Linked DNA regions of Homo sapiens. The protein of the gene in region 4 interacts with the protein of the main gene of each other region in a pairwise test. Each region holds a gene or a part of one and is shown on either strand. Other genes may lie near its edges.

What was found.
Region 1: the proteins of SHFL (region 4) and KRTAP1-5 interact in binary tests that used the Homo sapiens proteins (3 or more experiments, as listed by UniProt).
Region 2: the proteins of SHFL (region 4) and FHL5 interact in binary tests that used the Homo sapiens proteins (3 or more experiments, as listed by UniProt).
Region 3: the proteins of SHFL (region 4) and SSX2IP interact in binary tests that used the Homo sapiens proteins (3 or more experiments, as listed by UniProt).

What each region holds. Positions count from the first base shown.
Region 1 is NC_000017.11:41,025,502-41,031,861, forward strand, and holds KRTAP1-5 (keratin-associated protein 1-5), read right to left. Parts: upstream 1,708-6,360; 5' UTR 1,655-1,707; coding exon 1,130-1,654; 3' UTR 525-1,129; downstream 1-524. Other genes in the region: KRTAP1-4 (keratin-associated protein 1-4), read right to left, coding at 4,212-4,577. UniProt on the Homo sapiens protein: In the hair cortex, hair keratin intermediate filaments are embedded in an interfilamentous matrix, consisting of hair keratin-associated proteins (KRTAP), which are essential for the formation of a rigid and resistant hair shaft through their extensive disulfide bond cross-linking with abundant cysteine residues of hair keratins.
Region 2 is NC_000006.12:96,601,098-96,608,127, reverse strand, and holds part of FHL5 (four and a half LIM domains protein 5), read right to left. Parts: exon of another isoform or gene 6,976-7,030; intron 4,527-6,975; 5' UTR 4,515-4,526; coding exon 4,356-4,514; intron 3,379-4,355; coding exon 3,204-3,378; intron 2,227-3,203; coding exon 2,057-2,226; intron 1-2,056. UniProt on the Homo sapiens protein: May be involved in the regulation of spermatogenesis. Stimulates CREM transcriptional activity in a phosphorylation-independent manner.
Region 3 is NC_000001.11:84,645,460-84,652,489, forward strand, and holds part of SSX2IP (afadin- and alpha-actinin-binding protein), read right to left. Parts: intron 6,539-7,030; coding exon 6,424-6,538; intron 5,069-6,423; coding exon 4,903-5,068; intron 2,149-4,902; coding exon 1,974-2,148; 3' UTR 1-1,973. UniProt on the Homo sapiens protein: Belongs to an adhesion system, which plays a role in the organization of homotypic, interneuronal and heterotypic cell-cell adherens junctions (AJs).
Region 4 is NC_000019.10:10,082,408-10,089,328, reverse strand, and holds the start of SHFL (shiftless antiviral inhibitor of ribosomal frameshifting protein), read right to left. Parts: upstream 3,013-6,921; 5' UTR 2,902-3,012; coding exon 2,881-2,901; intron 2,401-2,880; coding exon 2,277-2,400; intron 2,079-2,276; coding exon 2,029-2,078; intron 219-2,028; coding exon of another isoform or gene 1-218.

The DNA.
Region 1 (6,360 bases), on a different chromosome or scaffold from region 4:
TTCGTTGTCCACCTACCCTTACATGGCCAATGATCCTCAATAAAAGAAAAGCTCCCACATTTGCTTTCGACTTGGAAATATGTGTCTTTTTACCATTACTTAACTTTTTAATGCACTTTATGTCTTCTTTGGTGTCATATATAGGAAATTGCCATTTTGAGAGCTTGCTGCAGTTTATTGCATAGTGTAATGGAGTGCAGTAGCATGATCTTAGCTCACTGAAACCTCTGCCTCCTGGGTTCAAGCGATTCTCCTTCCTCAGCCTCCCAAGTAGCTGGGACTACAGGTGTGCACTACCACGCCCAGCTAATTTTTTTTTTTTTTTTTTGTATTTTTAGTAGAGACAGGGTTTCACCATGTTGCCCAGGCTGGTCTCAAACTCGTGAGCTCAGGTAATCCACTCACCTCAGCCTCCCAAAATGCTAGGATTACAGGTGTGAACCACTGCTCTTGGCCTCAAGTAGACATTCTTGAATTATAAGCAGTTAAACCAGGTGATGTACAAGTGAAAACAAAGACAATGGTTTCTTTGCCTAGTATATAATATTTATTAAGAAATGACAGAAGACATTGTATCACAGATATAACTGAAATATCCAGCAGGCAAGATCATTATGATCCAAAAACCAAGGGATGGATCAGATGTTAAAATGTGGAAAGTCCAGCCTACTTCTTAGAAGCTGAATGTTGGGTGATGAGCTTCCATTCTCTCTGGTGACTTGAGGAATGTCACTTGGCTATAATTTGGTGTCTTTGATGTTGCAAAAAATTTTAGGTAAACAAGATAAAATAGATTATAAAGCATGGAAACATTAGACTTGTGGATAGTTCTCATGGATAAATTCCACAACATGTCAGTAATTTTTAATCCTGCAGAAATATCAGAAATAGTATATCCCAAGCAAATTGATGATCAGCAGGTGGCTTTGTAGCATTTCTGTGTCCCCAGTGAAGGGTCAAGGTATTCATTGTAGAATGGAATCAGATAGAATTGTGAGCTCATATACTTAGTAGTCTCCATCACAAGCAATGCAAAGTCTGAGAACTTGTTAGTGGTCCAGAGGTGGTCAAGGGATGAACAGTTCAGAGACACTGTGACCTAGGCAATTGAAAATAAGCAAACTGGCTTTCAGCAAGTGGGCTCACAGCAGCAGACTGGGCGGCAGCAGGACTGTCCACAGTAGGACGGGCGGCAGCAGGAGGCCTGGGCATGGTGCAGTTGGCAGCAGGATGGGGGCGTGCAGCTCACCACACAGCAGGGGGGTAGGTAGGTGCCCTCCACACGACTGTCTGGGCGGCACCACCTGATACGGGTGCTCACAGCTCCACTGCTGCCCTCCTGGCCATAGCTGATGCCACCACCAATGCCACAGCCAGTTCCGCAGGAGCTGATCTGGCAGCAGCTTGGCTGGCAGCAGCTGGTCTCACAGCAGCTTGGCTGGCAGCAGCTGGTCTCACAGCAGCTTGGCTGGCAGCAACTGGAGCTGCAGGTCCCACTGGTTGAGAAGCTGGGAAATCCGCAGAAGCTAGTCTGGCAGCTGCGTGGCTGGCAGCAGCTGGTCTCACAGCAGCTTGGCTGGCAGCAGCTGGAGCCACAGGTCCCACTGATGGAGAAGCTGGGATATCCACAGAAGCTGGTCTGGCAGCAGGTCATGGTGTCAGAAGTTGGGTTAAGAGTTAGGTTGCTTGGAGGAGTTTCTGAGGTTTGGTGGTGACTTCCACGTTGGTCCTTTTATATATCTGAACCAGCTGCTGTTTACAAAATTGTTAACATATTTTCTTTGTTTTTGTTTAAATTTGTTACTCCGTGGATCTCTGATTGGCTTATGTTGAAATACTTGTGACACATTATGAGCAATAGTTTAGAAATTACTGTTTTATAGTTTCTTCTGGACTCCTCATATCAGTCCTTTGCTCTTTGGAATATGTTTGTGGTTTCCCATGTTCAAAGAGTACTTCCATTTTAGTCCAAATGAATGCTCTCATTTTACATAATAGTTATTCCACGTGACAATCTATCCATACCTCTAAGGCTAAGAGTAATAATTGTGCTGTTATATTTAACTATTATTTTTTCCTCCTAGATATATAGACTAAATTTTATTGAATTTTGGATATCTGGATATCTACTGAACTGAAGGAATACCTTTGGTCATACATAATTCGCAGATTTCACCTTTTTTTGTTCCAATGTCTTATTGAATTACCGATTATAGTTCCTTTGATTTCAACCAATTTGGAATGTGTGACTATTATTCCTGTTCCAGACCAGAAATCTGTTCTTGGGAACCAAACTGACATAGTATTTAGGAAGGTATCCAGCAGAGTCCTTAGTTTGTGGTAGAACCTTAATAAATGTTTACTGAATCTGATTCAATAAATGTTTATTGAATAGGTGGAGTAAAAGGCTTGATTCATGGATATCAATACCACTCAAACATGATTAAAGAGAACTTTCAAGCTGTAGTACTTCTCATGAAAGAGTCTTGTTATTTGCTGTAAAGAGACTAGGAAATGTGTTTTTTGGTTTATTTTATTTTATTTTTTGGATTTAGTAGTGGAACCGGGCTCGGGAAAAAATATCTAGGAGTTATGACACTTTGAAAAATGTACTGCCATCTACTTTATTCCTCTTGGAAATTGCATAATTTTGTGTGTAATCCATCATTGCTACCAATTAAATATAGAGGTAAGTTCTGGGAGCTTGTAAATAATGTGGAAAACGTGTTTCTTTCTATATTTGCATCCTATTGTATTTTGTGTATTACACTCTAATGCCTAATGAAGAATTTAAAAATTAAATGGTAAAATATGTTTTGTTTTGTTCTAGGTTGTGTTAATTTTTTTTTTTGAGACAGAGTCTTGCTTGTTGCCCAGGCTGGAGTGCAGTGGCGTGATCTTGGCTCACTGCAAGCTCTGCCTCCCAGGTTCACGCCATACTCCTGCCTCAGCCTCCCAAGTAGCTGGGACTGCAGGCACCCACGACCACACCTGACTAATTTTTTTTTTGTATTTTTAGTAAAGACTGGGTTTCACCATATTAGTCAGGATGGTCTCAATCTCCTGACCTCGTGATCCACCCATCTCAGCCTCCCAAAGTGCTGGGATTACAGGCGTAAGCCACCGTGTCCAGCGTGTTAACTTCTTAAGAGAATATCTTTTAAGTTGGGTTGCAAAGTGCAAAATATAATCGAGCTGTTTCAGATTTCTAACACTTCTGTCTGACAAATGGCAATGGTAGAACTCAGCGGGTGCTCTCTATAGCTGTTTCTTCTACTATCATTTAGACCAAAGATACACCTTATGCATACGTACATCAAATGAAGGTGAATAGTGGGAGTTGAAGCTTAGAGAGCAATTCAAGGATCAGTGGGAAGAATGTGAAAGGCTAAGGTGTAGAAATTAAACCTAAATTCTCTTGGAAAATAGGTAGTATCTAGTAGCTATTTTTAAATCTATTTAGAAGGTAATGCAATTTCTTTAGATTTTGGGGCATAAATGAAGGAGAACATTTAGTATATTAAATGGAAGGAGACAAAAGATGGTAGAATTACATTTAGATAGAAATCAATAGCTTTGATCAACCTTAACATTTTAGCTAAAGGTCAACCTTTATTGGTCTAGACCTAATCATAATAGATTAGAGCATGTAAATATTTGAACTATAAAAATTCTTTAATTCATGGAGCATTTTTAAGCTGATGGATTCAAGCATAATTTACTTTGTATTTAATCTTTCTGGTTTAGACTTTATGGTTATGCCTTGGTATTATTATCAAATTGCAAATCCACTCTTGAATACCAGCTACAAGAAGACATGTTTAAAGGTAGAAGGAGGACATAACTCAGTTTGCTTTGCACATTAAAACATTTTATTTGGATTAATCAGAGATATTCAAGGAAAAACCAGGTCTGAAGATGCATGAGCATCAAGAGAGAGTTGGGGGAGCAGAGATGTCACTGAAATGATGAACTATTCCATCCTGGTCCTCTGCTCAAGCAACGCAAGCTATCCAGAACACTGATTGATACATCTTTCAGTAAGTGAATTCGGCACATCCACAGTGTCCTAACTAGGAGTTTCATTATCTCTGAGCAGCTTAACAACATCATGGTACTTAGCATCCAAGTAAAATCGAACAGTTCTTCAGAAATCAGCACAATTTTGCTGTGCTTCCCCTTTCATTCTTAAGCGATCAGCAACCTGGCTTTTAGCAGGTGGGCTCACAGCAGTGGCAGCAGCAGGCTGGGCGGCAGCAGGACTGTCCACAGTAGGACGGGCGGCAGCAGGAGGCCTCGGCGTGGTGCAGCTGGCAGCAGGATGGGGGTGTGCAGCTTACCAGGTAGCAGGGGGGCAGGCAGGTGCCCTCCACGTGGCAATCTGGGTGGCACCACCTGATACGGGTGCTCACAGATCCACCGCTGCCCTCCTGGCCATAGCCAATGCCACCACCAATGCCACAGCCGGTTCCGCAGGAGCTGGTCTGGCAGCAGCTTGGCTGGCAGCAGCTAGTTTCACAGCAGCTTGGCTGGCAGCAGCTGGAGCCACAGGTCCCACTGGTGGAACAGCTGGCCATGGTGTCAGGAGTTGGGTTGAGAGCTGTGTTAAGAGAGGTTTCTGAGTTTGGGCTGTACCTTCTATATCTGTCCTTTGATATGTTCCCTAGAGCTGCATATTTACCCAACACCTTTTCTTGATGTCAATTTCAGTGTGAGTCTCTGGCTAATACCTGAGGTGTTTATAAAGTTATAAATAGCATTTCAATAGCCTTTTTCCATTGTACAATTAAGTCTCATTATGTTTCTTCTTTGCCCTCTGGGCGAAGTGAAGGCTCATCATGGAAGCCAAGCACCGAAGTGCCTCTTTATGCAAGTCACATGACAGACTAGCCTTGAGCCAAGTGTCGCCCTGGCACGTTTTGTCATAGTTGTCCTTTGATAACCTTTAGGCAGAATTTATCTTAACTGATCATTTTTCCTTAAATGGTCACTTAACTATGATCATGATTTTATAAACAATTTGTCCAGACTTGGAAAGACTAACATTAGTGTCATCAAAACATGAACTACAACCTGATGTATCAACTTTCAAACCAAGTATGCCTTTCTATGATCAATTTGTGCAAGTTATAGGATCCTCAGAGCTCTATCTAATATTCTTGCCTTCAGTAATAGTGAATGTACAAATTGCTAACTAAAATCTTTAATGACTTTTGCTTGTAGATTGTTTTCTGACTCTATTAAATTAAACATATGTGCTAGTAATGAGTACACATTGTAACAAGTCAAAGAGTACAGAGGTATATAAAGAAAAATTAGTGTCTTTTCCCTTCCTGGAAGATGCACACATCTCTTCCAAAACTAATGCTCTAGAGGTAATCAATATTAAGAATTTGGTGCACATTCTTTGACACCTTTATCCTTGCTTCTGCAAATATAAACCAGCATATATACATATATATCTTCTATTTCAGAAAAGTTTGGGTCTCCTACACATGTTTATAGTTACAAATTTTTAATTGTGGTAAAATATACATACCATAAAATTTATGAACCATTTACATTAACCATCTTAACCATTTGTAAATAGTCTTGTCACCCTTGTTGAAAATCATTTGACCACATTCACATTCAGAAGAAATGAAATTAGACCATTGTCTCACATTATATACAAAAACCAACTTAGAATGGATTAAAAGACTGAAATGTAAGAAAGACTCAAAATGATAAAACTATAAGAAGAAAACAGAGGAAACTCCATGACTTTTGCCTGGCCAATATTGTGATATTGTGAACATGAATCCAAAAGCATCAGCAAAAATAGACAAGTGGGATTACATCAAACTAAAAAGCTTCTGCACAGCCAATAAAACACTAAACTGAGTGAAGACGCAAACCGCTGAATGGGAGAAAATATTTATAAACCACATATCTGATAAAGGGTTAATATCCAAAGTATAGAGGAAACTCAAACAACTCAATACCTGTAGTAAGAAAACAAATAACGTAATTGAAAAATGGGCAAAAAATCTAAATAGACATTTCTCAAAAAAAATCTACAAATTGCCAACAGGTATATGAAAAATTTTCAAAATCACCAATCATCGGATAATGCAAATTGAAACCACAATGAGATATCGTCTCACACATATTAGATAGTTATTATCAAAAAGACAAAAGATAGCAAGTGTTGGAGAGGAAGTGGAGAAAAGAGAACTCTGGCACACTGTTGGTGGAAATGTAAATTAGTACAGCCATTATGGAAAACAATATGAAGGTTCATCAGAAAATTAAAAATAGAACTGTCATATAATCAAGCAATCCCACTTCTGTGTATATACCCGAAGGAAAGTAAATCAG
Region 2 (7,030 bases), on a different chromosome or scaffold from region 4:
CTGTTTTAGTCTGTCTTTAAGAAATGCAGCCTAAAATTGGCCAACTCAGTTGTCTCTCAAAACAGTGAGATAAACCTATTCATTTTATTTCCAGCAAGATTTTATTTTCTTTAGTTTTTAAGTTTTGTATATTTTTTAGAGATAGGATCTCATTGTCACCCAGGCTGGAGTACAGTGGCTCAATCATAGCTCACTGCAGCCTTGAATTTCTGGGCCCAAGTGATCCTCCTGCCTCAGCCACCCAAGTAGCTGGGACTACAGGCACGTGTCACCATACTTGGCTAATTTTTAAACTTTTTTTTTTTTTTATACAGACAGGGTGTCACTATGTTGCCCAGGCTGGTCTTGAACTCCTGGCCTCAGGCAATCTTCCCACCTTGGCTTTCCAAAGTGTTGGGATTACAGACGTGAGCCACCATGCCCAGCTCCAGCATGTTTTTAAATGCCGTCATTGACCCTGGTAATTCTTTGGAGCTTCATATGTCATATGGCTTGATTGCTGCTTGTAAAGTCACCTTCTAAGCCAGTGTTTTGGTAGAGTAATGAAGGTCTCAGTCATAAGATTATTTTATGTCATGTGATCAATTGTAATTCTCAGCCATCAACATAGTGTAATTTAATAATGATAACTTAGCATAGTGTATTGCTGCCTCTTTAAATGCAGTAGTGGTATTGGTTATGTATGTTAAACAGTTAACTGCGTGTGTGTGTGTGTGTGTGTATGTGCATGTGTGTTCACATATGTGTGCATAGAAAGTGGTAGTGTGACTTCCAGCTGTCCAGATATACAAATGGGCTTAAGAGTTCTGCCAAAGTAACCCACAGATAAAAAATACTTTGAAACCACTATACTAATCCAATGTATTTTCATGATTCAGCTTTCTCATGACAATTTATGGTGTCATTTTAAACTTATGATGCCTCGCAGGTCAAGGATTTCTTTGAGAACCTCCATATATATTTTATGGAATGCAGACAGGCTTCATCAAGGTGTTAGAGCTACTTTTTCACATAAAAGCTTAGAGGATAAAAAAAGAATTGGATGAAGTTTACTTCAAAAATATTACTTTTTTTTTCTCTTAGAAAATGTTTTTTTTGAGTGGGAAGCCAAGTCAGAAGGCCCTACATGATCCTGGAACTGGAGTGAAGGAACTTGCTGCTCTTAGTCTTCTTTCTGTCTTTTGTCTACTGAACTTCCCCCATGATCTTGGCACTCTCTTGAGCCGATTGCCCTACTCATAGGAAATACAAAAGCTTCAAGTCAAGAAGACATTTGCATTGCTGAGAAAGAATGTGAGAAGTTAAACATCCTGTTTAACTTGGTTCCCTTAGTCACTTTGTGAGGCAAATCCATATTTCTCTGAAACAGTTAATACTGAATAGATCAAACATTATTTTTTAAGAAACATCTGTATTCAAAGAGAGACCTGTGCTTTCTCCCAGAATACGTGAGATCTTGTATAAAAGCAGTGAATGGGCCGAGTGTGGTGGCTCATGCCTGTAATCCCAGTACTTTGGAAGGCCAAGGCAGGTGGATCACCTGAGGTCAGGAGTTCGAGACCAGACTAGCCAACATGGTGAAACCCTGTCTCTACTAAAAATACAAAAATTAGCTGGACACAGTGGCACGCACCTGTAATCCCAGCTACTTGGAAGGCTGAGACATGAGAATCTCTTGAACCTGGAAGGCAGAGGTTGCAGTGAGCCGAGATTGTACCACTGCACTCCAGCCTGGGTGACAGAGCGAGATTCCATCCCAAAAAAATAAAACAACAACAACAACAAAAAACAGTGAAATGAACTGGAATACCAAATCACTTGAGCTGTTTGGAATATTAAATTCTTGTTGTGGCTGGAATTTTATGGTTAATAAAAAAAAAAAAGATGGTCATGCTCATCGTGACAACTAGTGGTTTGGACATGTTGAAAGTCCAAACTACCATGGGTGTGTTGATTACAGATATAACATAATAGTATCAGTTCATTCTAAATATATGATACAGCTAAAAAGAAATAGTCTGAGTTTCCACAAGCTTCACCCTCTTTAGAAAATTACCTTCTTACAAAAGTTGCAGTAGTGAGCAAACTCCTTCTCAAAACATGGCACACAATAATTGCCACTCTCTTTGGAGATCAAAGGCTTTGTCCCTATAGGTTGTCGGCAATTCTCACACACAAAACAGGTTTCATGCCAGTAGTTTCCCTTAAATTCCATTTTGCGGGAACCTGTACTCCAAAAGTAAGGCCATGTTAGTATAAGTCAAGCATAATTTTATTTTTTAAGCAAATACAGATCAAATTACTTAAAAACGTTTTAAGTTAAGATGATAAATGAATTGTCCTTTTAGAAAAATAGTATTTTTTCAGGTTCAAAAAAACCCATTCATCTGGAGAAAAAAAAATGGTTAATAAAGTTTAGCCATGATGATGGAGAATCACTCTTAGACTGAAAACTTTTTCAAGCTCTGCATAACCTATAATCTGGAGATGTAAAAGTACTTTTAATGGAGACTCCTAATGGTTTCACATGGTTTGGATAAATTGGGCCATAATAATCATTACAAGGGTATTAAAAATGCCCAGAGCACAACTACTGAGACTATACTGTGCAGTTATGGCCTTCTAGAAATTCTCTGAATCCATAATAAGAAAATGAGAGAGCAAGAGTGGCAGAGAATGAATTATGTTCTTATGCTGCTGACCATAGAGATTGAGAAGATCAAAATATAAAGAATTAGTCCTTGCCAAAAGTGGAATGATATACATGAACCCTGTCTTCCCTAAGAGAGAATAACAATAACCGATCCTCAAAACAGTTTGTGTCAAGCTACAAAATGGCAGTTGGCCCCAATCGCCTATGATGAATCACTCTTTCTGATGCCATTGATTGTGCCTAGGGCACTGTGTTTAATGTAGTGTTATTGGTATACATTTTGTCTTTATTTTATGGGTAAGATTCTGGTTTGAAATGTTTCTATGAATTAGACTATATGAAAATACACAGAACACTGTAATTTACCTGTTCAAGGATAATGAATGAATAATCTTTTTATTTCTAAAGTACACGGAAGAAGATTGAGAGAGTAAGAAAGATATCTTTCTCAAAACCAGGGTTTTGGGAGCTGCTGCACTCCTCATGTGCTGGGACTTAATGAAAAGCATCACAGCTTCAGTTAGAGACAGGAGCCCCCTTGAGACCCTACCAGGCATGATGGTCCTCTTGCAGTGGAAGCACTTGGAGGAGCACTCGTTAGAATAGCACTCCGTGCACAGCAGGCGCTCATCCTTGGCAGCAAAAGGCTTTTCCACCAAAGAGTGATTGCATTTGGTGCACTTGAAGCATCCTTCATGCCAGTGCCGGTCTTTGTAACAAAGATCCTTTGAGACAGTAAATAAAAGTTAATTAAATGTGGTTGTGACAATACAGGCCATTTTATGAAACAAAACTGAACACTCCTGGGACTCTCATGTCAGTAGGTTGTGCTAGTAGCGTGAGGGAAAGTTGTTACTGAAACTGTTACCCATAGAGAGGAGACTCTCTGGGGTAATTAAGAGCTAGAGCCCAGGGCTTTCTTGGTGGGTCACTTAAGGCAGCTGGGAAAAAACAAATACATTCTCTGCTGTGTCTTCAAAATTTGCCTATATTCTTTTTATAAACTATAATAGAGGTTTTTCATGGAATGATTTTTAAAAATTTTAGGGTGCAATGTTCTATTACTCTTTGAGATGTAACTAAACAGACAAAAAATAACATCACCTAAGTAAAACAAAGGCAGAAAGAGGGAAGAAAGAGACAGAGAGAGAGAGAGAGAGAGAGAGAAAGAGAGAGGAAAATAATCGGAGGATGGAAGGAAGAAAAGAAGAAAGAAAGAAAGAAAGAAAGAATAAGCATGTCGGAGGAAGGGGTGGTAGGTGTGAGAGGTATCAATAGGGTTTAGTAAGAAATGAAGCTGATTTTACATCAGAAAACAGATTTTGAATCCTTTCAACTTCAATTCTTTATGCATTTATTTATACCCTTGTCATTCCAGAAATAACAAACACACCCAGAAGGTTACTGAGAGCTTGGAAACAGCAGGAAAATTCTAGCTGTGTAACTTTGGACAAATAGCTTAACCCCTTTAATCTTTAGCATTCTCAGCTACCTTAGAAGATCATGTGAGGATTAAGCATATGTTGTATTTCATAGTGCTAAGTGTAGTGGCTGGAGCTTGACTGCTGGTAACTTTTAAGATCCTTATATATCCAGTAGCAGAGAAATAGTGTTGAAAGTCAACACTAAATGAAAAGAGGCACTCCAACCCACTTGTTTGCTGTTCATAGGCAGTAATTCTGTAAATTGAGGTGAGACTTACCTTAGAATCAGATTCAATTGGTTTTTTGCATTCCTCGCAATAGTTAGAAAATACACGATCATAACATGTAACACAGTATGGACTGTCATCCTTTAGTACATATTTCTTCCCAAGAAGTGATGCTGTGCAGTATTGACAGTAAAAGTGAGCAGTTGTCATTTTGGTTTGATCCTATGAATGACAAAGTGATTAATGTATATAAAAGCAGAATTTTGTTTATAGGATAAATGATGAAACCTTAATATAATGTGAGTGAAGCATTTGAATGAACTTATATTTTCTTAAGCAAAAATCCCCCAATTTAGGAAAGTATGCTTATAGTCATGGTGACATTTGGAGTGATTTAGGAAAGATTACTCTCCCATCTTGGCAGTTCCCTGTATGTTTTGCTAAAAAAAAATGCATAAAACCTGCATCTAGATTATGAAAAACATCTTGTGTTTATCATAAGCTAATGTGGAATTCAATGAGAATATGGTATCTGTTGAAACAGGATGGTTTTACCTCAAGGATATAAACTGTTGCTAGGGCTTTTAATAACTATCATCACTTACTTTCTTGCTGGAAAATTCTAGAGGCAGATTTTGATGGAAATAACAGTCTTTTTTACTCAAATATAAATTAATAATCAGTACATTGTCATTTTCTAGTTCATTCTTTTACTCCTCAAGTCTTTACTGAATACCTAATAAGGGCTCTGCACATTTACCCTGAGGTCTTCGTGTACTACATCCCCTCCTTGGCTGTGGCTTCCACCATCCCAAATGTGCTGATGACTCCAAAATCTCTGTTTTCTGCTAGCTTTAGATATCTTCATTTAAATGTCCTTTACCAAACTGGCCAAATAAAACTCCTCAGCAGGTAGGATTCTCAGACCAAGTGCTAGGTCTTTGTGACTATTGTGAACAATTGCCCAGATGCAGAAGTGCAGATAAAATCATCAGTGGTAGAAAACAACAATGGGTTCCTTCAGGCTTTAGGGCCAAAGTAACATGTATAGAGCATAAATAATAGCAGCAGCTATTCCATTATAGCTATGGATAAAATAGCTAGAATTCATCTGCAAGGCAAAATGCATTCTGTAAGATGAATAAAAAAGCTGATATGAAACATAAAGCCAGTGATAGATAAGGACTCTGATTGTTTTGTAAATTTGGAAAGCCATTAAGAAACAATGCACAGCCTGTAGTCCCAGCTACTCGGGAGGCTGAGGCAGAAGAATGGCGTGAACCCGGGAGGCGGAGCTTGCAGTGAGCCGAGATTGTGCCACTGCACTCCAGCCTGGGCGACAGAGCCAGACTCCGTCTCAAAAAAAAAAAAAAAAAAAAAAAAAAAAAAAAAAAAAAGAAACAACGCATATAGATTTCCAGGTTTTAATTAGGCATTGAACATGAATTCTTTGTTGTTACAAAAAAAAATTAGCACTGCTTTTCCTTGGAAAATGAGATTTGTCATCTCAGGGTTTACTGGAATATATTAGGAGCTTTGAATATTTTCTAATTCTCCCCCCACATAATTTTTCTTTTAATTTTAGCAAAATCAGAGGAGCAATTAACGATAATACAACAGAGTTTTTGATACTAGTTTGTACTGACTACATTTGAACTCTTATTCTCATGCGTTTTGCCTTATTCTAGTGATGAAATTCCCAGCAGAGAGCCTTGCTGAATGCACATGATTATTAATTCTGTACATAGCAGTTTTGCTATATTGTTCTTCACTAACAAGTAGAGAAAAGGCAGAGGATTTGGAATATGTGGGTCTTTTCCCAGGAAAGAGATGAAATGCAGACTAGAAAGTTCGCAATGGAACATGGCCAAAATTATCTAAAAGGAACATTGAATTCTCCATTTGATTAATTCCACAGAAATGTTCCTTCCTAGTGAATACAAACACACTCAGAGGGTTACCGAAGGCTTGGAAACAGCAGGAAAATAGATCTAATTCCCTTGAAAGGTTTAAAAATAAAAGTTGTATTCACATTTACAGCGATCAAGTGTTTGTCACTTTATAGAAATAAAATATGTACCTTTAACTCTCTTCACTTAATATGGAAAACGTCGTTTTCATTAATATTTATTTTAGTTTTAGATGTGTATAATAGCATCATGAAACACGGCCCCTCAGGGGTTAGGAACTGCAGTCTACTGCCATTTTGTGAGGCTTTTAGTGTATTATAAAATGAATATATAAAACATATAAAACCACAAAAGGGATTACCAAATTGATAATATTTCAATTGTTTATTTTAAATGACACTTTAAACATGACAACATCAAAATACCTGTAACTTATTTAGTGATCAGATCAGAAGTCTAAATATAAGACAAGACGGTCCTTCTCCCACCCCAGTCCTAATTACATAACAGGCCTGGATCCACAGAAAATGCCTTACAATATAGACCATATTTCTTAATTTTTTGTTTTGTTTTGTTTTTTGAGACAGAGTCCTGCTCTATTGCCCAGGCTGGAGTGCTGTGGTGTGATCTCGGCTCACTGCAACCTCTACTTCCCGGGTTCAAGCCATTCTCCTGCCTCAGCCTCCTGAGTAGCTGGGACTACAGGCTCATGCCACCGTGCCTGGCTAATTTTTGTATTTTTAGTAGATATGGGATTTTACCGTGTTGGCCAGGATGGTCTCAATCTCCTGACCTCAAGATCCGCTCACCTCGGCC
Region 3 (7,030 bases), on a different chromosome or scaffold from region 4:
TTCCAATTTGAGAACTCAACTCACTTTAAAATGGAAACACGCAACAAAAAACAGATGCTGCTTTCTAGAACTCCATTGTCATGAAATATAATATTTGCTAAAATAAGAGATTTACTTTAAAAATTAGAGTGCTTATTTCTTGCAAAGTACACCATGGAAAACCCTCGGGGGAAAATTGTTGCCAAATGTATCCATTAACTGTATTTAAAATTTCTGATTGCCTTTTTGACCATGTTATTGCTAAATAGCAAAACAAACAAAAACAAAAACAACAAAAATCCTATATCCCAGCTAGATTTCTTCCTTTAGCATATGGTAGTGTCTTCGATATTTTGTACAATGTGTAGTATTTTAAATAGTAAAGAAGTGACCATGCATCAAGCTGAAGGTAGTGACTAATGCTCAAGAGCTAGCTCTTTAAAACTATAAATATGGTTACTATGAGTATATCCACTAATGTCTCATAAGACACTCTTAATGATATCCTATCAGCCCTGAAAAAATGGCTGCTGCTATGCAACTCCAAAGAGTTACATAGTTACGTATAGTGAATGGACAACACAAATAGGTGGGTTTTTTTTGTTTTTTAATAATATGAATTTAAAATAGCCACAAACAGGGTGAGTGCATGTAAGCGGCTGAACTGCCAGTACAGGGGAAGGTAAATGGGCCTAAACTATGATACCTAGCAAGGGTTGGATCTGTGCAGGCTTCTATGTACAGAGACAAGCAGGGTTAGGCACTTAAAGCTTTTTGATGAAAATCCTGGGAAAGAGCTGAGCCTACATTTATTATTATTACTATCAAAACAACAACATACTTTTCATGAAGAAACATGCAATCAGAAACATTACAGAGACTGAAGAGAGCTTAAGAGTTTTCTGAAAATGAAATGACATGTTTTTCCAGAGTATCATCTCAATTATAAAATTTGATGGTTTTATATTATCATATTTCTTCAGTGGTAAATACCTCATTAAAAAATTATTAAAAAATTATTGACAATACAAAGCCCTAGTTAGTATACAGATATTACTATACTGGTACCCATCTTGTAAGGAAAATATCACCATCTAGATATCTTAAATATCTTCTATCATCCAATATCTTAAACCAATTTCTTAAATTGTTTTATTCAAAGGTACTTTTGTCGTCTTGCCCCTATTCTTCTATCATCAATAGTCCTTTTAAAAATTATAATATTCTACATATACAAAATAAAAATCTAATGTCATAAAAATCTCAAAAATGTAATGTTAGTAGTGTTGATTATCTAAAGAACTCAGCTTCATGGAATACCTTTCAATATTTATTGCCCAGATGTATTAAAGAGAATTCTTAAATGTAATGCATCAATGGTCCTAATACATCTGTAAACAGAATACCACTAAAAAAATTTTACTGGCATGAAATACTATACTTATGGTTGTGTGAAACTTTTAAATCTTAAAGCCTCTTAACATAATCATGTGTATCTATGTACAAAACATACATAAATTTCACTTTATTTAAAACATATGAAAGAGGTAATTTCAAACCACACTAAACATAATAAATATAGAACTCGCTTTGTTAAAAATCTACAGTATACATTCAAGTAAAGGCTAAACTTCCAATGCCAACTATATTTGAGACAAAATTAAACATTTACAATAATCAGTTTCCTAAAAGTGCTATTTTTAATACCTATAAGAGGAAACTCAGTCTAGTGCTTTTGTTTCCATCCAAACATCTATACATTCCTTTATTCACAGAACCAGATGCTTCTGTTACTAAAAATACATATCCAAAGCTTTTATATCCTTTTAAATAGATTTAAGATTTCAACTCTTTGGGGGAAGACAGGGAAGTCCAAACAAACAACTCAGACCATCTTAAGTTATTAGAGATAACTGACTTTATGACACACCCTGTTTCAACTTAGATGTGAAACTTGATGAACACATTAATGAAAAAAATTCCAGTCCACATGTCTAAGGTAAGTCATCTTTTTCTACATGAGAATTTGTGTAGCTCAAGGAGCATCCACTATAGCAACCTTCCTGTGATCCAGGTCTTGATGCCACACTCCATTTTTGATTTGTACATTCTCCTCCAACCTGATTTGGTTTAATTTCTTCAGCAGTTATATTCAGTACATTGATTGAACTGTTGGGAAAAGAAAGGCAGATCTTAGTGACTATCCTCTCCTTCTTTTGTACTTTAACCTCATAATGTGGCACTCTTCAAAAAAAATAAGTTCCTTTTAATTCTAAAAATCTAGGCCAAAAATATAATTTAAAATTTTACTTGGAAAAAAAAAACGGCTGGGAGCAGTAGCTCACACTTGTAATCCTAGCACTTTGGGAGGCTGAGGCAGCCGAACTGCTTGAGCCCAGGAATTCAGGACTAGCCTGAGTAACATGGTGAAACCCTGTCTCTACAAAAAATTAGCTGGGAGTAGTAGTGCATGCCTAGTTTAATCATTTGTACAAGGGATTCTGATGACCAAATTACTATAAATTTATTTACCAATACTTATAGTAATTCGGTCATCAGAATCCCTGTACAAATGATCAAACTAAGTTTTTTAGGTAACTTACGCACAAGTCTCCTTGCCTGGAATCTAAGGCACAGCCTTTATATAAAATTCCATTCTACAGTGAAGGAACAATGAGGATGTTGTAGAAATTAGCTACAAATACTCCTAATTATTTTGTTGCAATATTAATATAAACCGAGATCCAAAATGCTTCAGGAGCAAGAGAACCAAGTTTATCAAATAATTTAAAATGTGAAGAACCAAGTCAGGCTGCACAGCTTCTCTATTAGTTATAAAACTTTTTTCTGTTTGTTTTATTCTTAGAGGCTAGTTAACAATGAATACCTTGAATTTCTTTAAGCTCCAAAATTGTTTCTATGCCACGGATGTTGTTTAGTGGAGCACTCAGAAACAAAAAAAGCATGTTTATATTTGTTTACATATATTTTTATTTTTATAGTCTGTCACTAAATGTTTTTAAGTGCTTTACATACATTAACATTTAACTTGCAACACCCTATGATTTAGGTACTAAATGCTGAACTTTATTAAACATAAAACAATGTCTTCAAGAAATGTTTATGTCAAATATTTCACAACTAAAAATGATGTAAAAAGCTAAATATTTAAAATATATAAAAACAATTGAGACAACTATGTTATGCTATCTCTTAGATATAAAATGCATTATTTGTGAATGGTGGCTAGAATTTGTGTCTATATCTATACAGATAGTTCTGACTGGTCAAATTTAGAAGTTTGAATAACATTCTATGTAAGAAAATACTATAAGCTTACACATTATCTTTTGATTGTAAAATAAATAAACTTTCACTTCCCATATTCAACTCATCTACTGGTCTAACTTCAAAATAGATCCCAAATCCAAGCATTTCTTCCTTCATATTATGACCCTAGTCCAATTACCATTGTCTTTCGTTTCCACTCCAATAGTGCCTCCTAACTGGATTTCCTGGTTTATATTACAGACTCCTACAATCTGTTTTCAATATTATAAAACAGTAATCTTTTTAAAACTTAAGACTTTTTTTCACTCTCTTGCTTAAAACTAGTGTTTTTTCTATTCCCCTTAGAACAATATTTGACCTGCAAATGCACACTAAAATATTCTGTAAATGAAATCCCAGATGTGTTGGGGCTGGGGTGGAGAGAGCAAGCAGAGTGGGATTATATATGAACAATATTGATCAGAGTTAATAATTGCTGAACCTGAGTCATAGGTACACGTGGGTTCACGATCTTATCCTCTCTGTATATTTGAACTTTTACATCTCTCCATCCTCATCTCACACCTCTAGGTCTTGGTCACCATTGCAAATGTATGAGGTGTGTCCCACCCTCAGGGTTCCTACACTTGGCTAGAGTGCTCTTACCTAGCTCTTTTTCATCCCCTCTAACATTTACTTGGAGTCCTAATCCCCCCACCTCTTAAAAGTCAACTACAACTTATAGTGTGTTCTCCTCCTTCTTTTAAAAGCTTCCTTTCTTGTTTTAAACTCCATCTATTTCATAATTCTTGGCCCAAGGGCCAGCTGGCTTCTTCGACACTTAGTTCCACTCCAGTCTCTAACACAGGCCGAGTTTGCTTCAGCTCTGACTGTTTTCCAAGGCCATTATCTCCTACTTTTAATTAAGAGCAAAGAGATTACCACCATACTTTCCAACTTACCCCTCTGATCTTTTCTATTCCTCTCTGTCTTACTAGGAATGTTCTACCTGCTTCCTCTTCTTCGTTTAAAACTAATCTTGGAATTGGCACTGAAGCAGAGTATTGATCTTATCTTAGAAAATGATATAATAACTTGAGATACAGGAAAACACCAAAATGTAGCAATTAAGAGCAACATATGGGTTTCCCAGGGTGGAGAGCCATGTTTTTTTACACTGTCATCCTTGGGCACAAATCTTTTTCACTCAACAGGAACAGGCTTTTCTCAGTTCTTTGCCCTTCAACAACAATAAAATGGGCATGCCGGAAAAAAGTGTTAAGATATGTACTCTACAAAAACTGTCAAAACAATATCCTTCCATTTAATACAATTAAAGTGCTTAAAATATTAACTCCTATAATTAAGACTACATTCTAAATTGTATCTTAAATGTGAAATAAAAAGACACACATCATATGATTTACCTCCAAGAAGACAACAGATCTACCTGTTCACTAGTGTATTTCCAGCATCTAGCACAGTGTCTATATATACTGGACACTCAATATTTGTAGAATGAATAAATCATCTACTAAATTCCTCTCCAAAATCTCTATTGTTGCTAATACTACAGACATGCCACCTTTCCCTTAGCAGTGCAACTTTAGCAATTTTTAGAAACACGTGAAAAGATCACCTATAGACAAATACCTATGTTCAGATATGCAGGAACGTGTCTGGCAAAAGTCTGAAGTGGAAGGTGAAGCAGGAAGAGATTTAGTAAGTTTAGACATGCAAACTGGAGACCCATTAGACACACTGTGAGGCTTCTTTTGCGGCTGCCTCGAGTGCACTATAAGATTGTCCCAATCAGAACCTGTTGTAAAACAAGTAAGAGAAAAAGGCAGTACATATGGTGAGGCATTAAATATAGTGAAGGTAAATCATCAGGATGATTCATCTGCGGTTCTGAGTGAGGAAAGAGATGGAACAAATTCAAATTAATTATCATTAATCTTGCTTATCTTTGTTGCATAGTCCACCCATGTTTAAAAGGATCTTTTTTTTTTTTGAGATGGAGTCTTGCTCTGTCACCCAGGCTGGAGTGCAGTGATGCGATCTTGCCTCACTGCAAGCTCCACCTCCTGGGTTCACGCCATTCTCCTTCCTCAGCCTCCCGAGTAGCTGGGACTACAGGGGCCCGCCACCATGCCTGGCTAATTTTTTTGTATTTTTAGTACAGACGGGGTTTCACTGTGTTAGCCAGGATGGTCTCGATCTCCTGACTTCGTGATCCACCTGCCTCGGCCTCCCAAAGTGCTGGGATTACAGGCGTGAGCCACCGTGCCCAGCCAAAAGGATCTAGTTTTAAAAATATTTCTAGGCTGGGTGGGGTGGCTCACACCTGTAATCCTAGCACTTTGGGAAGGTGAGGCGGAATGACTGCTTAAGCCAGGAGTTTGAGACCAGCCTGGGTAGTATAGCGAGGGCTTGTCTCTACAAAAAAGTTTTTAAAATTATCTGGGTATGGTGGTGTGTGCCTATAGTCTCAGCTACTCAGGAGGCTGAGGCAAGGAGGATTGCCTGAGCCCAGGACGCTGAGGCTGCAGAGAGCCGAGATGCACTCCAGCCTGGGTGACAGAGCAAGACTACATCTTGAAAAAAGAAATTCTCAATGTAAATTTTCAAAAACTTCGCATTATTACAAACTCACAACAAAAGTTACTTTGGGCATGCACAGTCCCCCTCTCATCCTCACTTTCACTACAGTAAATAAAATATTAAAGTTGATTTTTAGGCCAGGCGCAGTGGCTCATGCCTAATCCCAGCACTTTGGGAGGCTGAGATGGGTGGATCACCTGAGGTCAGGAGTTCAAGAACAGCCTGGCCAATATGGTAAAAACCCGTCTCTACTAAAAATACAAAAATTAGCCAGGCGTGGTGGCACATGCCTGTAATCCCAGCTACTCAGGAGGCTGAGACAAGATAATCGCGTGAAGCTGGGAGGCAGAGGTTGCAGTCAGCCAAGGTCACGTCACTGCACTCCAACCTGGGCGACAGAGCAAGACTCCGTCTCAAAAACAAACAAAAAAAAGTTGACTTTTAGTTATAATTAGAGAGCTCTAATTGGTGATTTCCAAAGTTTTGTATTAATAATATGTAGTATTTTGTAATATGTAAATAATTTTATTTATATGCATGTTCAAATTAAAGAGTTTATAAAGTACTCACTTCCTGAGAAGGCACTGAAAAGTTTCACATTTTCTGAGTTCTGGTGGTCAAAGGTAGTCATATTTAGAAACTGCTGCTTTAACCAACTGGCTCTTTCTTCTTCAAATGCCTTTCTCTACCATAAACAGCCAAAGAAATAATGATCAATATTTCAACATCCACACAGTTGCCATTTCACATGATTGCTCTAGCTATCTTTGTTTGCTCTCTGGCTATCTATTCGTACTTCTTATGTCAAATGAGTTAACCTAAAAAACTAAAAATAATTTCAGCACTCGTCTGTAATCCCAGTATTTTGGGAGGCTGAGGGTTGGTGGAGCACTTGAACTGAGGAGTTCCAAACCAGCCTAGGCAACACGGCAAAACCCTGTCTCTACACGAAATACAAACATCAGCTGGGCATGGTGGCACAGGACTACAGTCTCAGCTACTTTGGAGGCTGAGGAGGGAGGATGGCTAGAGGCTGGGAAGTTGACGCTGAAGTGAGCCGAGATAGCACCACTGCACTCTAGCCTAGGTGACACGGCAAGACCGTATCTCCAAAAAAAAAAAAAAAAAAAAAAAAAAAGCCGGGCGCAGTGGCTCATGCCTGTAATCCCAGCACTTT
Region 4 (6,921 bases):
TTTGAGGCCACGTTGTGCTCGGCTAAGTGGGAGAGAGATGTGGGTTCAAATCCCAGCTGTATCACTTCCAGCTGTGGGGACTTGGGCAAGCCACTCCCTGCCCCCTGGGTTCCCACTGACAGGCATGTTAGAGCCCAGGCTCTGACTCCAGGTGGCCAGGGTTCAAATCGCAGCTGCCCCTGCTTGCTGGCAAGTGACTTCGGCCTCAGTTTCTTTGTCTGTGAAATGGGGATAAATAATAGGACCTGTCTCCTGGGGTCACTGCAGTGATGAAATAAATAAATTCCTGGAATCTTGCCATGTGGGAAGTACTCAATGAATGCTACTCTCTGCTAATATTATTATTATTATTATTATTATTATTATTATTATTATATTTTTGAGACGGAGTTTCGCTCTTGTCTCCCAGGCTAGAGTGCAATGGCACAATCTTGGCTGACTGCAACCTCTGCCTCCCAGGTTCAAGTGATTCTTCTGCCTTAGCCTGCCAAGTAGCTGGGATTACAAGCATGCACTGCCACGCCCAGCTAATTTTTTGTATTTTTAATAGAGAAGGGGTTTCACCGTGTTGGCCAGGCTAATCTCGAACTCCTGACCTCAAGTGATCTGCCCGCCTCAACCTCCCAAAGTGCTGGAATTACAGGCGTGAGCCACCACACCTGGCCCCTCTGCTATCATTTTTATCATACTTTTATATGTATAAATGTAGACTATGATACATGTTTTGTTATACTCTGGTTTTGTTTGTTTTTGTTTGTTTGAGACGGAGAATCGCTCTGTTGCCCAGGCTGGAGTGCAGTGGTGCGATCTCGGCTCACTGCAAGCTCCGCCTCCCGGGTTCACGCCATTCTCCTGCCTCAGCCTCCTGAGTAGCTGGGACTACAGGGGCCTGCCAGCACAACTGGCTAATTTTTTTTTTCGTATTTTTAGTATAGATGGGGTTTCACCATGTTAGCCAGGATGGTCTCGATCTCCTGACCTCATGATCCGCCCGCCTTGGCCTCCCAAAGTGCTGGGATTACAGGCGTGAGCCACCGCGCCCGGCATTTTTTTTTTTTTTTTTTTTTTGAGACAGAGTTTCGCTCTTGTTGCCCAGGCTGGAGTGCAATGGTGTGATCTCAGCTCACTGCAACCTCCGCCTCCTGGGTTCAAGTGATTCTCCTGCCTCAGCCTCCCGAGTAGCTGGGATTACAGGCATGCGCCACCATGCCCAGCTAATTTTGTATTTTTTAGTAGAGACGGGTTTCTCCATGTTGGTCAGGCTGGTCTCAAACTCCCGACCTCAGGTGATCCGCCCGCCTCGGCCTCCCAAAATGTTGGGATTGCAGGCGTGAGCCACCGCGCCTGGCCTATTATACTCTTTAACAGCCCTACACTAAGCCTTTCAGGCAGGCTAAATCCACAGCGTTCCCATCACCAAAGCTGTCAAAGAAGCAAAGTAGCCATGATGCACCTGTGCTTCAAAGCCATTCATTCATTCATTCATTCATTCATTCATTCATTCATTCAACACAAGGGTTCCATTCCCCTGCCTCTCTCTCCTCCCCAATCCTCTGCTCATCCTAGCCTTTCTAGAGACTGCCACTAACAACCCTTCCCCACCTCCCAGCCTTTGCTTATGCCATTCCCTCCCCCACCCCAAGACCCCTGCCTTTCTTTCCCTTTCCCCTCCCAGGGCTCACTCCTCCCCATCCTTTAAGACTTGGTACCTCCTCCTCCAGTAAGCCTTCTCTGACCTCTGCGCCCCCGCTATGATGGCAATAATCCTGGCTCCTTTCATTGCTTAGTTTCATGGCTCTCTCCCCCATTGAATACAATCAGCACATAATGAGCGCCTACTGTTTGCAGGCTCCCTGGCCGGACAAATGATGGAGAGGTGAAAAAGTGAGATTGGGTGATGAGTTATGGACCGACAATGCCTGGTCCCTCCTGTTTCAGAGGGGGGTCAGTCACCATGAACGGGTCGGGTCCCCCCTCTTGCTCTCCCTCCCGTGACCCGGTCCTTTGCGAGGGGAGGGGATAGGTTACCTGGGCATCCAGATCGTTACTTAGTTCTTGGCCATCTTTTTGCTTTACCCCTGCGGGGGAGAGTGCATATAAGGGAAGGGCCCTTGAAGGGTCTGTGGGAGTTCCAGGCCACCCAGAGCCGCGACGCAGAGCCTCCCCAAGGCTGGGACCTCCGGGGGAGGTGATCTCAACGCCTCTCCCTAGACCACGCCCCCTCGGCGCTCCCACGCGCGGTCCCCGCACCAGGCCCGGGACCCCTGCAGCCTCACCGTACACGATGGAGCGCCCCACTCCCGTGTGGTCGCTGCCGAATTTCCTCATCAGAGCCCCCGCCTTCTTGGAGGATACCTTCCCATGAAACTTCTCCCGGAGGCGCCGGACGCTCTTCTCCAGCTGGGATGGAGACAGGGGGGTTCCGGTGGGGGAAGGGGAAACGGGATCATCCCTCCCCCATCTCTAGGCACCGTTCTCCCGGCCCGAACTTGACCCTTGGTTTTGGCCTCCGCCGCCCCCCCCCCGCCTTTCATCCCTTTACGGCATTTCCTGGAAAAAGCCAAAGTCCCCACAGGGCGTTGGGGGAAGGCGCGGACTGGGGCGAGCGTCCCAGCCTAAGGTGTGGGGGGGCGGCCAGGTTATCTCTGGCCTCTGACCTTTGACCCTGCAGCCCCCGCTTTTCCTCGGGGAGGCCTCATTTCGCTCTGGGGAAACGTGGGAGTCACTTTCCTTTTCAAGGGGGGCGAGCGCCAGGCAGGGGTAAGGATCTGGGGTTCTAGGATGGGGGTCCCCAGGAACTGCGAAGCCCCCTCCGCGCCTCCCGGCCGCTCCTCGGGGTCTGTCGCGGCTGACCCCGGCCCAGCCGTAGCCATCGCTTACCTCCACACCTTCCTGAGACATGGTGGCGGCGGCGCAGTTCCCCGCGAGGGTCCGCACTGCGCGGCTCAGCCGCCCCCCTACCTGGGTGCGCCCGTCGGTCCAGCAGCCGCGCAGGGCAGGGGGCGGTGCCTCGGGGCCGGCTCCGCCCTTCCTCCCCGGCCCCTGTTTCGCTTTCGATTCAGGGGGGACCCGGCGCGCTGGCTCCGCCCTGGCTCCGCCTCTGCTCTTGCGCCCCAAACCCAGGCGGGCGCCCCGGGTCTGCACCCTGCGGCGGAGCGCGCAGACCTCGGACGGGGGAGGCGGCGCGGCCTCTGCAGTCGGTCACATGTCCCCACGCTGCGCGGGGTCCGCGTCTTCACGTCCCTCGTGGGGGCGGGGCCGCATCAGAAGGCCGCGGCGAGGCCCCGCGCCCCCCCACCCAGCGCGCGCTCCCCCAGTTCATCACCCTCCTCTCTGTTCTCCCTCCTTCCCCGGGAATCTGGCGCTCATGAGGACCTGGGCCCTTTTCCTGCCCTGAGTCTCTGTCCTAGCTACGGTCACCTCTCTCAACCTCAGTTTACCCCTCTGTGAAATGGGGAGAATCCTGGTGTCTACACCATGGAGTGGAGTATGTGCCAAGATTCCCGAGTGGATCGCGTAATAGCGCCTGGCTTGCAGTAGGCGTTCAACTAGTCACTGGGCCACCTGCTGTGTGCCCTTGATAGGGGCAGGCAGTGTGTGTGTGGTTGGGGGGAGCGGTGCTTGAGAAAAATACAGATTCTTGGTCTCTAGTAGCCCGGTAGAATCCGGCTGTCTCAGGGATCCAGGGAATCTGCAATGGTTAAGAACCCCGTGGGACGGACAATTCTAACCCAGTACAGGGCACATCAGGGAGCCCTTAGGTGGTGGGGCTCTGGCCCAGCCTGGGGACACAGAGATGGCAACTTCATTGGAGGAGGGGATGCTTTGTAGAGTCACTGAAATTGGAGGTCTTAGCTAGGGGAGGAATAGAGTGGGGAGATGAGGCAGCCGTGCAGAGCCCCCAAAGCAAGACTAAGTCTGGGGTTTTTGGGCAATGGCTTCTCAAGCCCAGCACTCTTGACACTTTGGGCGGCCTAGTTCTTTGTGTGGGGGACTGTCCTGTGTATTGGGGGACATTTAACACCATCCCTGGCCTCCACCCACTAGATGCCAGTGGTTCCCTACTCTCCCTGTTGTGACTACCAAAAACGTCTCCAGAGACTGCCGGATACTCTCTGAGGAGCAAAATAGCATTGTGTTCAACGACTCCAAATTTTTTTCTCCATTGCACACCCCTATAGGTAAAAGTGTTAAAGTTACACCCCCAGATGGATATTTATTCATTTATTTATTTTTTGAGACAAGATCTTGCTCTGTTGCCCAGGCTGGAGTGCAGTGGTTTGATGGTGGCTCACTGCAGCCTCTAACTCCTGGGCTCAAACGATCCTCCTGCCTCAGCCTGCTAAGTAGCTGGGACTACTGGCATATGCCACTATGCCTGGTTAATTTTCTATTTTTTTTGTAGAGACGGGGTCTCACTATGTTGCCCAGGCTGGTCTCAAACTCCTGGCCTCAAAGATGGATATTATTTATAAATTATATACAAATACAATTATATCAATATATTCTGTTAACTGTTATATAAAATATTGATAGATAAATGGAGCTGGGCATGATGGTTCACACCTGTAATGCTAGCACTTTGGGAGGTCAAGGTGGGAGAATCACTGGAGGTCAGGAGTTCAAAACCAGCCTGGGCAACATAGCAAGACCTTGTCTTTAAAAAAAGAAAAAAGAAAAGGAAAAAGTTATTTTTAAAAGACTAAAAAACAAACAATAAAACCCCCCAAATCTAGATATTCTAAAGTTTTTCCAGTTGAACCCCAAAGCTTTGTTTATAGGGTGTATGTACTCCACTCTGGAGACTACTGTATTTGCAAACTACAAGCAGTTCATGATTCCTTGTGGCTGAATGGTGGAATCCTAGGCAGGATGGGGGCTGGAAACTGCACAGAAGACCTGGGATTTTATCCTGAGGGAAGTGGCGAGGTTTGGAGTGGATCGCCTGTCATAGTTGCCAGTTACTAATCTATTTGCCCAGTGCAGAGGGAGGTCATAGCTATGTCCCATTCACTGGCCGAGATGGGCACTGAGTGGGCAGGAAACAGGTAAGAGTCTGAGCTAGCCCTGACATAAATCAGATCTGGTAGGTTTTTTGTTTTTTGATTTTTTTTTTTAGCGCAGAATATGCAGACCAAAGGTCTGTTAGGTTATAATCACCGTGGCAACCACATAGAGCGTGTACTCTGTTCCCAATGCTGTTCCAGGCACTGTGGACATGACAGCAAACAAAACAAAGATCCCTGCCCTCGTAGAGCTAGCATTTTTTTAAATTTGTTTTAAGAGACGGGGTCTCACTCTGTCACCCAGGCTGGCGTGCAGTGGCACAATCATAGCTCCGCTGCAGCCTCAACCTCCTGAGCTCAAGCAATCCTCCGGCCTTGGCCTTCTGAGTAGCTGGGACTGCAGGTATGTGCCACCACATCCGGCTAATTTGTTTGTTATTTTGTTGTTGTTTTGTTTGGGTTTTGTTTTTGTTTTGAGACAGAGTCTTGCTCTGTCACCCAGGTTGCAGTGCAGTGGCACGATCTCGGCTCGCTGCAACCTCTGCCTCCCGGGTTCAGGCAATTCTCCTGCCTCAGCCTCCCGAGTAGTTGGGACTACATGCATGTGCCACCACTCCCGGCTAATTTTTATACTTTTTTGTAGAGCTGGGGGCGGGGGGGTCTCACTATGTTGCCCAGGCTGGTCTTGAACCCCTGGGCTTAAGTGATCCTGTTGCCTTGGCCTCCCAAAATGCTGGGATTTCAGGTGTGAGTCACTGCACCTGGTCCATCCTTATGATTTCATGTGGTCTTTGTAGCTTAGGACTTGAGAAATGGCTTTGCTGCTGGGCTGTTCTGGCTCAGGGCCTCTCAGAAGGTTGCAGTTAAGGAGTTGGTCAGGGCTTCAGTCATCTGAAGGTTTGACGGGGGCTGGCGAATCTGCTTCCAAGGTGGCTCACTCTCAGGGCATGCAGATGGGTGCTATGATTGGCGGGATGCCTCGATTCCTCCCAGTATACTTGAGTGGCATGAGTGTACTCCCAGCATGGGAGCTGGCCTCCCGAGCACCTTCCAAGAGCTGAGAGCCAGGTGGAAGTTGTATCTTTTTATGATCTAGCCTGAAAGTCCCACATCACTTCAGCCACATTATGTACATTAAAAGCTCATTGACTGGGCACAGTGGCTCATGCCTGTAATCTCGGCACTTGGGAAGCCAAGGCAGGAGGATCACTTGAGGCCAGGATTTCGAGGCCATGCTGGGCAACATAGTGAGACCCCATCAGCCAGGCGCGGTGGCTCACTCTTGTAACCCCAGCACTTTACGAGACCAAAGTAGGTGGATCACCTGAGGTCAGGAATTCGAGACCAGCCTGGCTAACATGGAAACCTCATCTCTACTAAAAATACAAAAATTAGCTGGGCGTGGTGGCGGGTACCTGTAATCCCAGCTATTTGGGAGGCTGAGGCAGGAAAATCACTTGAACCCAGGAGGCAGAGGTTGCAGTGAGCCAAGATTATGCCACTGCACTCCAGCCTGGGTGACAGAGCAAGACTCTGTCTCAAAACCAAAACGAAACAAAACAAAACAAAACAAAAAAAGCAGCAAATCTTGACCTGGAACTGGACCCTTGGAGGCTTAAGCTGGGCGACTGTGTTCAATTATGGAGGAAGGCCGGGTGCAGTGGCTCACACCTGTAATCCCAGCACTTTGGGAGGCCCAGGAGGGCAGATCACTTGAGGCCAAGAGTTCGAAACCAGCCTGGCCAACATGGCAAAATCCTGTCTACTAAAAATACAAAAAATAGCCAGGCATGGTGGTGTGTGCCTGTAGTCCCAGCTACTCGGGAGGCTGAGGTGGGGGAATCACTTGAACCCGGGAGGCAGAGGTTGCCGTGAGCCGAGATCGCACAACTACACTCCAGCCTGGGCAATAGAG